2 linked regions of the Homo sapiens genome follow. The protein of the gene in region 1 purifies or fractionates together with the protein of each later gene. This does not show direct contact. Each region holds a gene or a part of one and is shown in the gene's direction. Other genes may lie near its edges.

Region 1 (4,524 bases):
TGAATTTTCTCAGGCAGGCACTTAAAGAGGTGCTAGGATAGACTATGGCCTTGAGTTCTTAGAAACTATGTTAGTGTTTGTTTAAGTCTTTTAATACATGTGGTGGGGGAGGGAAGATGGGGAGGGTGGATGAAATCATTTTTGCTGACAGTCTATAGATTTTGTAAGCCAAGGCTGAGGTTTAGTCAAAAAGAGAACTAGAGTTCAATGAAATTGAGAATCTTTGTTAGAGGAGTCAGTTGTTAAACATTTACCCCAACACATATAGAGACAGAATATCATTTGGAGGGGAGGGTAGCAGAATTGATGGATATATTTTAGGAATAGAGGATATTCTAGTTCACAGAAAAGAAGTAATTGAAATGAAACTGACAGATGTGGAAAATTTAATTTAAAAGGTAGTGGGTATTTAACTCTTAATTGCCTTATAGGGATTTAGAAAACCTGAATAAACCTCTAGTCATTAAGTAAATAAAATTATTACTTAAACTCTACGTATACTAGTCAAAAAACAAAATAATACTTTGACTCAAAAATTAAGTTATTAGTTAAATATCTATTTACCACAAACAAAATATTAAATACTGGCAACTCAGTTTGAAAAAAAAAAATCTTCCAGAAATAAATTAGGAGATAGAAAAATATAAACTTTGATGAAGAATATTGAAAGTGTGGGTGGGATGGAGAAAGTGACAAAAATTATTTAATTCTTCTCATAGTTCATATTATAGTTTGTAAGTACTTTTTTTTACATTATCACATTTGATTATTAATTTTATCTGAGGAAAGTAAATCTTCCTTATACTTTTTAAATTTTTTATCTGACAAATAATTATATATGTGATGTTTTGATACATGTATGCAGAGTAGAATGATCAAATTAGGCTAATTAACATATTTATCACCTCACATATAGTACTTATCATTTTTATTTTGTGGCAAGAGTATTCAAAATCCACCCTTCTGGCAATATTGCCAACCATGGCTCAGTGAGGTGCCTAATGTCTCATAAGTATTTGGAAGAATGGCTGGGATTGTATCCAAGATTCTGAAGCAGCACTCTTTACGGAGCAGATAACACTAGAGTAGAGAGGAGACTGCAGTGTGTAAGACAACATATAACGGCTATAAATATGAGCAACAGACAAGATTAGGAGTCGGTCTTGATGATATTTATGTCCCCAGTGTCTCCCTGTCCTCACCCTTTCAGGGTCAAAGAAGGTCAGTCAAATTTTATAAAGATCCTATCATAATTGAAAGTTGTATGCTTACTCCCAAGTCATGCAGTACAGGAACCCATTTGAACCTAGTTTTCACACCAGTTATTGTTATTTACTAAAGGAAGTAATTGCCTTGAGACATGTTCTATCTCAACTTGGACTGGTAGTTATTGTTGTAGTAACTAATAGGTAATGAAGGACTACTGGCTAATGAACTTGCTGTATGTCAGTTCCCTTCCTGAGAGAGCACTTTAGTGACCCCAGGAGGTCTGCTCAGAAGGCCCATGGGCTTCTGCCTCTATGAGGTCCCTATCAAGAATCCAGGTTTTATGGGAGAAGAATTTGTTTTATGGTTTAACTTATTCCCACAGGTTCCATCAAAGTGATAAACTTCAACCCCTCCAGGCCCCGGGAATGGCTGGGTATAATACTGCAAATGAGACATAGGAAGTATACAGGAAGTTCTCTTCAAACTTCGGACTCCGAGCAGTGGCTGGGCTTCCAGAGTCAAGCTCTAGCAGAGCACTCCCCACCAACAATCTCTAGGTAAGACTTTATCAAGCAGGCATTTTCATCTTCACATTCCTTCTTAGTCTGATCACTAAGAGACCTAGAGGATTCAGAAATATGGAGAGGTTTTTGAATAATCAGGGTCCATAAAACACATAATTGAAACACAGAAACTATTTTTAAAAACAGATATTCTGCTTTTCAAATGCTATAGTGAAGAGTCTGGCTTCAAAATTAGTAAATTGGCTATATTTTTAACTAACTGTGTAAACTGGAACAAGTCTTCTCCCCTTTCTGGATCCCAGTTTTTGTTGTTTGTTTGTTTGTTTCGTTTTTTAAATGAAGACGTTGAGTGTGATAATCTCTAAAATTGCATCTCCCTTCTTACCCCCAGATCTTTGGCCCTATGCCTAAACAATTATGAACTATGAATAATGCAGCTGTGGTATCTGAAGAAAAGAATGCAAGGCATATATTCTAAAAGCTTTCTAGAATTAGGGGAATAAACTATGATTTCAATGGACCTAAGTAAGATAAATGTAAATTTGTATATGTGGTAGGTTTTATGAGAGCCCTGATTCCAATATCAGGAATAGGAGTAGATGAGTAACTGATGAGCTAAAGAGCTGCACAAGTCATCTCAATTGCCCTCTTTTTCATTACCCACCATAACTCGGATATATCAGGCATTGTGCTAAGTACTCTAGGAGGTAGGACATGGTATGAAGTTTCCTCATTAATTTCAAAAAGCTCACAGAGAGTTGCCTTGGAGTGATAAGACATATGCCTGGAAAATAATTGCAGTGCATTACAGGATATAATTGGAGGGACAGTGAGAAAGTACTACTGAGAATTTAGAAGTGTGAAAGAACAGTATTTAACTTAGATGGTCAGGGAAAAAAATGACAGACTTGAGCTAGAAAATGATTCAAGTGTCTTCAGATTGACAAAAGATAAAGCATATTTTTAGTGAGGGTACACTGCAAACAAAGGAGTCTGGGCTAAATACAGAAACCCACTTGGCAAACATTGAAATTGCTATAATGGTGATGAAAAGAATGTTTGAACACATGACTCTGGACCAGAGCAATAGGGTTGTTTCACAGAGCAAAACAAAGAATAATGGTGAAAGCCAGGTTTCTGGTCATTGGAAAGGACAGTTGTAAACTAAAACATTTCAAAAATGGAGAGAACTGTCTTATGGGTCAGGAAGCTTCCAGTGCTGTAAATCCAGGCAGAGGGTTGATGCCCATTTGTGGCGATATGGATTCCTTTATGAGTGAGAAGATATGAGTTTTTGCTGGGCTGAATCAAAATTAGAAACATAAGTACAAATATGAAGTTTGATACACATGATTTATCCTTCTATTTTAGCCTTCCTTTTTGTGATATTTAAAGGTTTTTTCTTTTTATGAGCTGTTGGAAATATATAATACATTTCAGATATTCCAACAATCCAGTGAAATCCAAAATTATGGGGGCCACTGGAAAGTGATAGTTCCTAAAGCTTCTCTCAACACTAAATTAAGGTTTATCAGTACTAGCAGTTACAATCATAATTAGAAATAATAAAATAAATTTTTTAAAAAGGGAAAATCATCAGTATTTTTTGCCATCTTAAAGGGGGTGTGAAAAAGAGAAGGAAATGGTCCAAACCTCTGAGAACTGTGAACTTGGAAGATGAGGGAGTTGGGGGTGCTAGTTTTCCGTGGAAAATAATAATACTTGATCGGATCCTGATGACTTTGATTGCTTAGGCAGAGTATGGAGGGAGTGAACAACAGCAGGTCATTAATGAGTGATGATACAATGTATAGTGTGATAATAAGTCTTTGGAGTTATGTGGAAACTCTACCTTCTGAGAAAGGAGACGACAAAATACTGGCTTCTCATATTCAATCTTCTGACCAGCCATCCATGTAGATCTGAAAATTTAGTTAAGGGCTCACAGTCTAGACAACTCATCTGTGAGTGGGACTGGAGGCCAGAAAAGGAAAGAGGCAGCTCTAGAATAGAACCTTTTATTTATATTTAGAAGGGAAGGAATATAGAACATCTAGAAAACAAGGGTCTGAGAAGAAGTAGAAATTTAGGGATAATCCTTTATAGAAGGCAGGTATGCATTCAAGACTTGAAGAAAACAGAAGGCAGAATTGGGCAGTGGATAGACATGGATATGCGGTGAGAAAAACTAAGACAAAGAAATTTTGGATAATAAAGTAATTATTCTGAAGCAAAATCACCCATATAAAAGTTTGGCCCGGAAGTAGTTCTCTGGAATCTAAGTAGAGAAACATCCTATATTAAGTCTTGGATTGAGAAAGGCTTTTGTATATGGGATGGACATGCTCCCTAGGTTTAGAAAAATGCCAAGAAAAATCAGAGTAAACAAAGTTAGTTTGGATGAATTTCAGGATCCTGGAGAGGGAAGAAGTGATAAGAAGACCGGAGGGCAGAAGGAGAAGACTCGGTGTCTTTCATAACTCTCTGCCTTTGCACAGGCAGTTCCATTTGCTTCAAATACTTTTTATTTCATTTTTCCATCTAAAAAATTCTGACAGTTTCTTCACTTCAAATAAAAATTATATCTTCTGGCAAAGCATGGTGACTTATGCCTGTAATCCCAGCACTTTTAGAGGCCAAAGCAGGTGGATCACTTGAGCCCAGGAGTTCAAGACCAGCCTGGGCAATATGGCTAAACCCCATCTCTACCAAAAACACAAAAATTAGCCAGGCGTGGTGGTGCACGTTTGTAGTCCCAGCTACTTGTGGGGTGGAGGTGGGAGGATTGCTT
Region 2 (3,823 bases), on another chromosome or scaffold:
TTTCTCACGGTTCTGGAGGCTGGAAGTCTGAGATCAAAGGTGCCAGCCTGATCAGGTTCTGGTGAGGACCCTCTTCAGGGATGCAGATACATCCTAAAGATTCTGTCTGTGTCCTTACATGCAGAAAGAGATTCCTTTCTTCTTATGAGGCCACCAACCCTATTGAATTAGGATCCCACCCTATGACCTCATTTAACCTTAATTACTTCCTCAAAGCTTTGTCTCCAAATACAGTCACATTGGGGTTAGAGCTTTAACACATGAACTTTGGGTGGACACAATTCCGTCCATAGCATTGGTTTATAAATCACAAGTATCTTATTGATGTAATAAGTTTTTATATATACTAGATCAAGTTAGGTCAAGTTTTCCCATCTTGTTTTGCTTTATAATGTATTTAGCTATTTTTTGCCTTTTAGTCTATGTACGAATCTGAGGTTCAGTTGTCAAGTTCATTTCCAAAATTTGTAGGTTTATTTTTGAGATCTCTGTTCTGTTTTGTCATGATGTATTTTGTTTGTTTCTGCCCAAACACCACAAGTTTTAATTGCTGTGACTTTATAATATGTCTTGGTCTGGGAAGGTAAGTTACCACTTTGTTCTTTTCAGCCATTCTTTTTCTTTTCTTTCTTTCTTTTATTTTTTTTAGGCAGAGTCTTGCTCTGTCACCCAGGCTGGAGTGCAGTGGTGTGATTTCGTCTCACTGCAACCTCTGCCTCCCGGGTTCAAGCAATTCTCGTGCCTCAGCCTCCCAAGTAGCTGGGATTACAGGCGTGTGCCACCATGTGTGGCCAATTTTTATATTTTTTGGTAGAGACGGTATTTTTGGTAGAGACAGTATTCACTATGTTGGCCAGGCTGGTCTCGAACCCCTGGCCTCAAGTGATCCTCCTGCTTCAGCCTCCCAGAGTGCTGGGATTACAGGCGTGAGCCTGCCCGGCCATAATATTCCTAATCTTCAGACCTTGTTTGAATTTTTCCAATTTTCCTGTAATGTCCTTTTTCTGGTCCAGGATCCCAGCCAGAATCCCATATTGCATTGGGTTTTCATGTTGCTTTATTCATGTTCAATCTGTAATAGTTCCTCAGTCTTCTCTTTTGTAAACTTGACATCTCAGAAGAGTTCAGGGTAGTTATTTGTAGAGTATTCCTCAATTTGGAGTTGCCTGATATTTTCTTATATGCAGACTGAAGTTATGCATTTTTGGTAATAATACCACGGAAATTTGATAAATGTGATGCATTTTCTATTGGTTCTGATAGTTTACATGTAGAGTCTCTTGGATGTTTTATGTAGATAATTGTATTAGATATTTTGGTTATTTGTGTCTTTCTAGCACATGGGAGGATTTTGCTTCTCCCACCTCTTGAAGTTACGCAAAGCATGTGGCTTTCCCTGGCCAATGAAAAGGGAGCTAAAGGGATGTGTGCTGAGACATTGAATTGCAGGTGCATGATTTCCCAGCTGTCTTTGCTCTGCTTGTTTAAAGCAAATGTTGATATGAGCATACCATTAGATCAAAATAGCATATGATAATAAACCGACCTTTGTATGCTTGCCTTCAAGAGTAGCCTGAATTAGCAATTGATTTTGCTTATGAGAAGATAAACTTGCAGTGTTAAGACCCCGAGATTTTGGGGTTGTTTGTGGCATAACCTAGCCTATGTGGTCTGACATAATAATCATATTGTCTATAAACAAGAATAGCTTAGTTTCTTCTCTTTTATTTCTTATATACATCTTTTCTGGTCTTATTCCATTGGCTGGGACCTCAAGGGCAATGTTTAATAAAAGCAGTGACAGGTTAGGTACAATGGCTCATGCCTGTAGTCCCAACATTTTGGGAGACCAAAGCAGGAGGATTGCTTGAGGCCAGAAGTTCAAGACTAGCCTGGGCAACATAGTGAGACCCTTTCTCTGAGAAAAAAAAGTGATAATGGACATCCTTGTCTTCACCTTCACCTTAATGGGAATGCTTTTAAGTTTCACTATCAAATATGTCTATTTTAGATATTTGATGGACACCCTTTGTCAAATTAAGAAAGATCTCTTTTTTATTATGAATTGGTGCTGAATTTTATTGATTCTTTTTTGATGTAGCTTTTGAAATAATCATAGACTTTTTCTTCCTTTAATTTACTGGTATAATTTATTAGTGCATTTCTTGTGTTTTATTTAGGACCTTTCCATTTGTATTCAAAAGAGATATTGTTCATAATTTTCTTTTCTTTTACTATCCTTGTCTGAAGTTGTGTATTTTTTCTCTGTCTCTTGGAAATGGCTTGCACAAAAAGGTTTTTTTTTTTTGTTGTTCCTTTAAAATTTGGTAAAGCTCACCTCTAAATCTTTCTGGGTTGTTGCATCGTAGAGTGGAGGCAGTGGACTTCTGATGACAGATTCATTGTTTATTTAGGTTCTATTTCCTTTTGTTTATTCAGGTTCTATTCCTTTTCAATGAACTACATTAATTCATGATTTGCTGGAAAATTATTTCAAAGTTTTGAAATTTATTGGCATAAAATTGTTCATAGTATTTTCTTATGATTTAACATTTTAAAAATTTCTCTGTTGCAGACCTTTTTGACTTTAAATATGATTTATTTCTGTCTCTTTTTTTCTTGTTAAATCTTGGTAAAGTTTTATTTGCTTTATTAGTTTTTCTGAAAGAAACAGTTTTTGAGTATGTAGATAATTTCTTTGGTTGTTTTATTCTGTGTATCAATGACTTGATAGTTATATCCTCGTCTTTTTCTTTTTCTCACCTTTCAAATGTTTATTGCTCTTTTTTCGTAGCTTCTTGAAGTATATGCTTAATGTATTCTACATATTTATTCTTTTGACCTATAACTTTATTTCTAAATAATTTTTAATTGCTGTCCACAGGTTTTGATATGTTGGTCTTTCATTTTTATTTGGTTTAAAATATCTATTATGATTTCCTCTTTAAGCCATAAGTTTTTTTGAGGCCTACTTTTGAAAGTTTCAAAACACACATTTTTCTCCAGTATGTTTTTATTGTTGATTTTTAATCCCCATAAGTGGTATGTGTGCAATTGAAAAGAATGTTTACTTTCTGTTTCTGTATGGTTTAATAAATGAAGTTTATTAATTTTCATTGTCAAATCATTATTACTAATTTTTGTTCTATTTGGTTACACGTTTCTAAAAGAAATGTGTAAAAATAAAATTTATTCTTAGAATGCTATCAATTTTTTGTTATATGTTTTGATGCTGTGTTGTTGAAGCTTACAAGTTCTAAAGATCTATATTATACTATCTATATTATAATAATTTATGGTGAATTGCTATGTAGTGTTGATACTTTTGGCTTGAATTCTTTTTGCCTTACATAGCTGCATTAGGGGTTGGTTTCTTTTTCTTTTCTCCCCCTAACTAATAGCAAGTATCTTTCCTGCCTATCGTTGTAGCTTTACTTTGGGTGTGTCATTTGAACTCGCATATAGGTAGATTTTTTCCAACCTGCTTATTGTGTTTCTAAGCAAGTGAACTTAATCCATTTATAATATACATAATTTCTGAGGCCTTTGGATTTAATTCTTTTATCTCATTATGTGTTTTCTTTTTCATACCTTTTTTCTTTAGTTCTCTTTTCTTCATTTTTTCGTCTCCTGTTGGATTGATACAGTTTTCTACATTCCCATTTTACTTCTTTTGCTGGTTTTCAGACTGTAGACTGTATATATATTTTTAATGATTATATTTAATCTTGAATCATGTATTTTAACGATATATAAACATTTTTGGTATTCCTGGTATTTTCTCTATCATGACAAGGACCTCAGCACAATTTAACTAACAACC

The links.
Region 2: the proteins of OR6N1 (region 1) and B3GALT5 purify together in Homo sapiens (affinity purification with mass spectrometry; one large-scale study listed by BioGRID and IntAct). This does not show direct contact.

What each region holds. Positions count from the first base shown.
Region 1 is NC_000001.11:158,769,263-158,773,786, reverse strand, and holds the start of OR6N1 (olfactory receptor 6N1), read left to right. Parts: upstream 1-1,591; 5' UTR 1,592-1,766; intron 1,767-4,524. UniProt on the Homo sapiens protein: Odorant receptor.
Region 2 is NC_000021.9:39,619,180-39,623,002, forward strand, and holds part of B3GALT5 (beta-1,3-galactosyltransferase 5), read left to right. Parts: intron 1-3,823. UniProt on the Homo sapiens protein: Catalyzes the transfer of Gal to GlcNAc-based acceptors with a preference for the core3 O-linked glycan GlcNAc(beta1,3)GalNAc structure. Can use glycolipid LC3Cer as an efficient acceptor.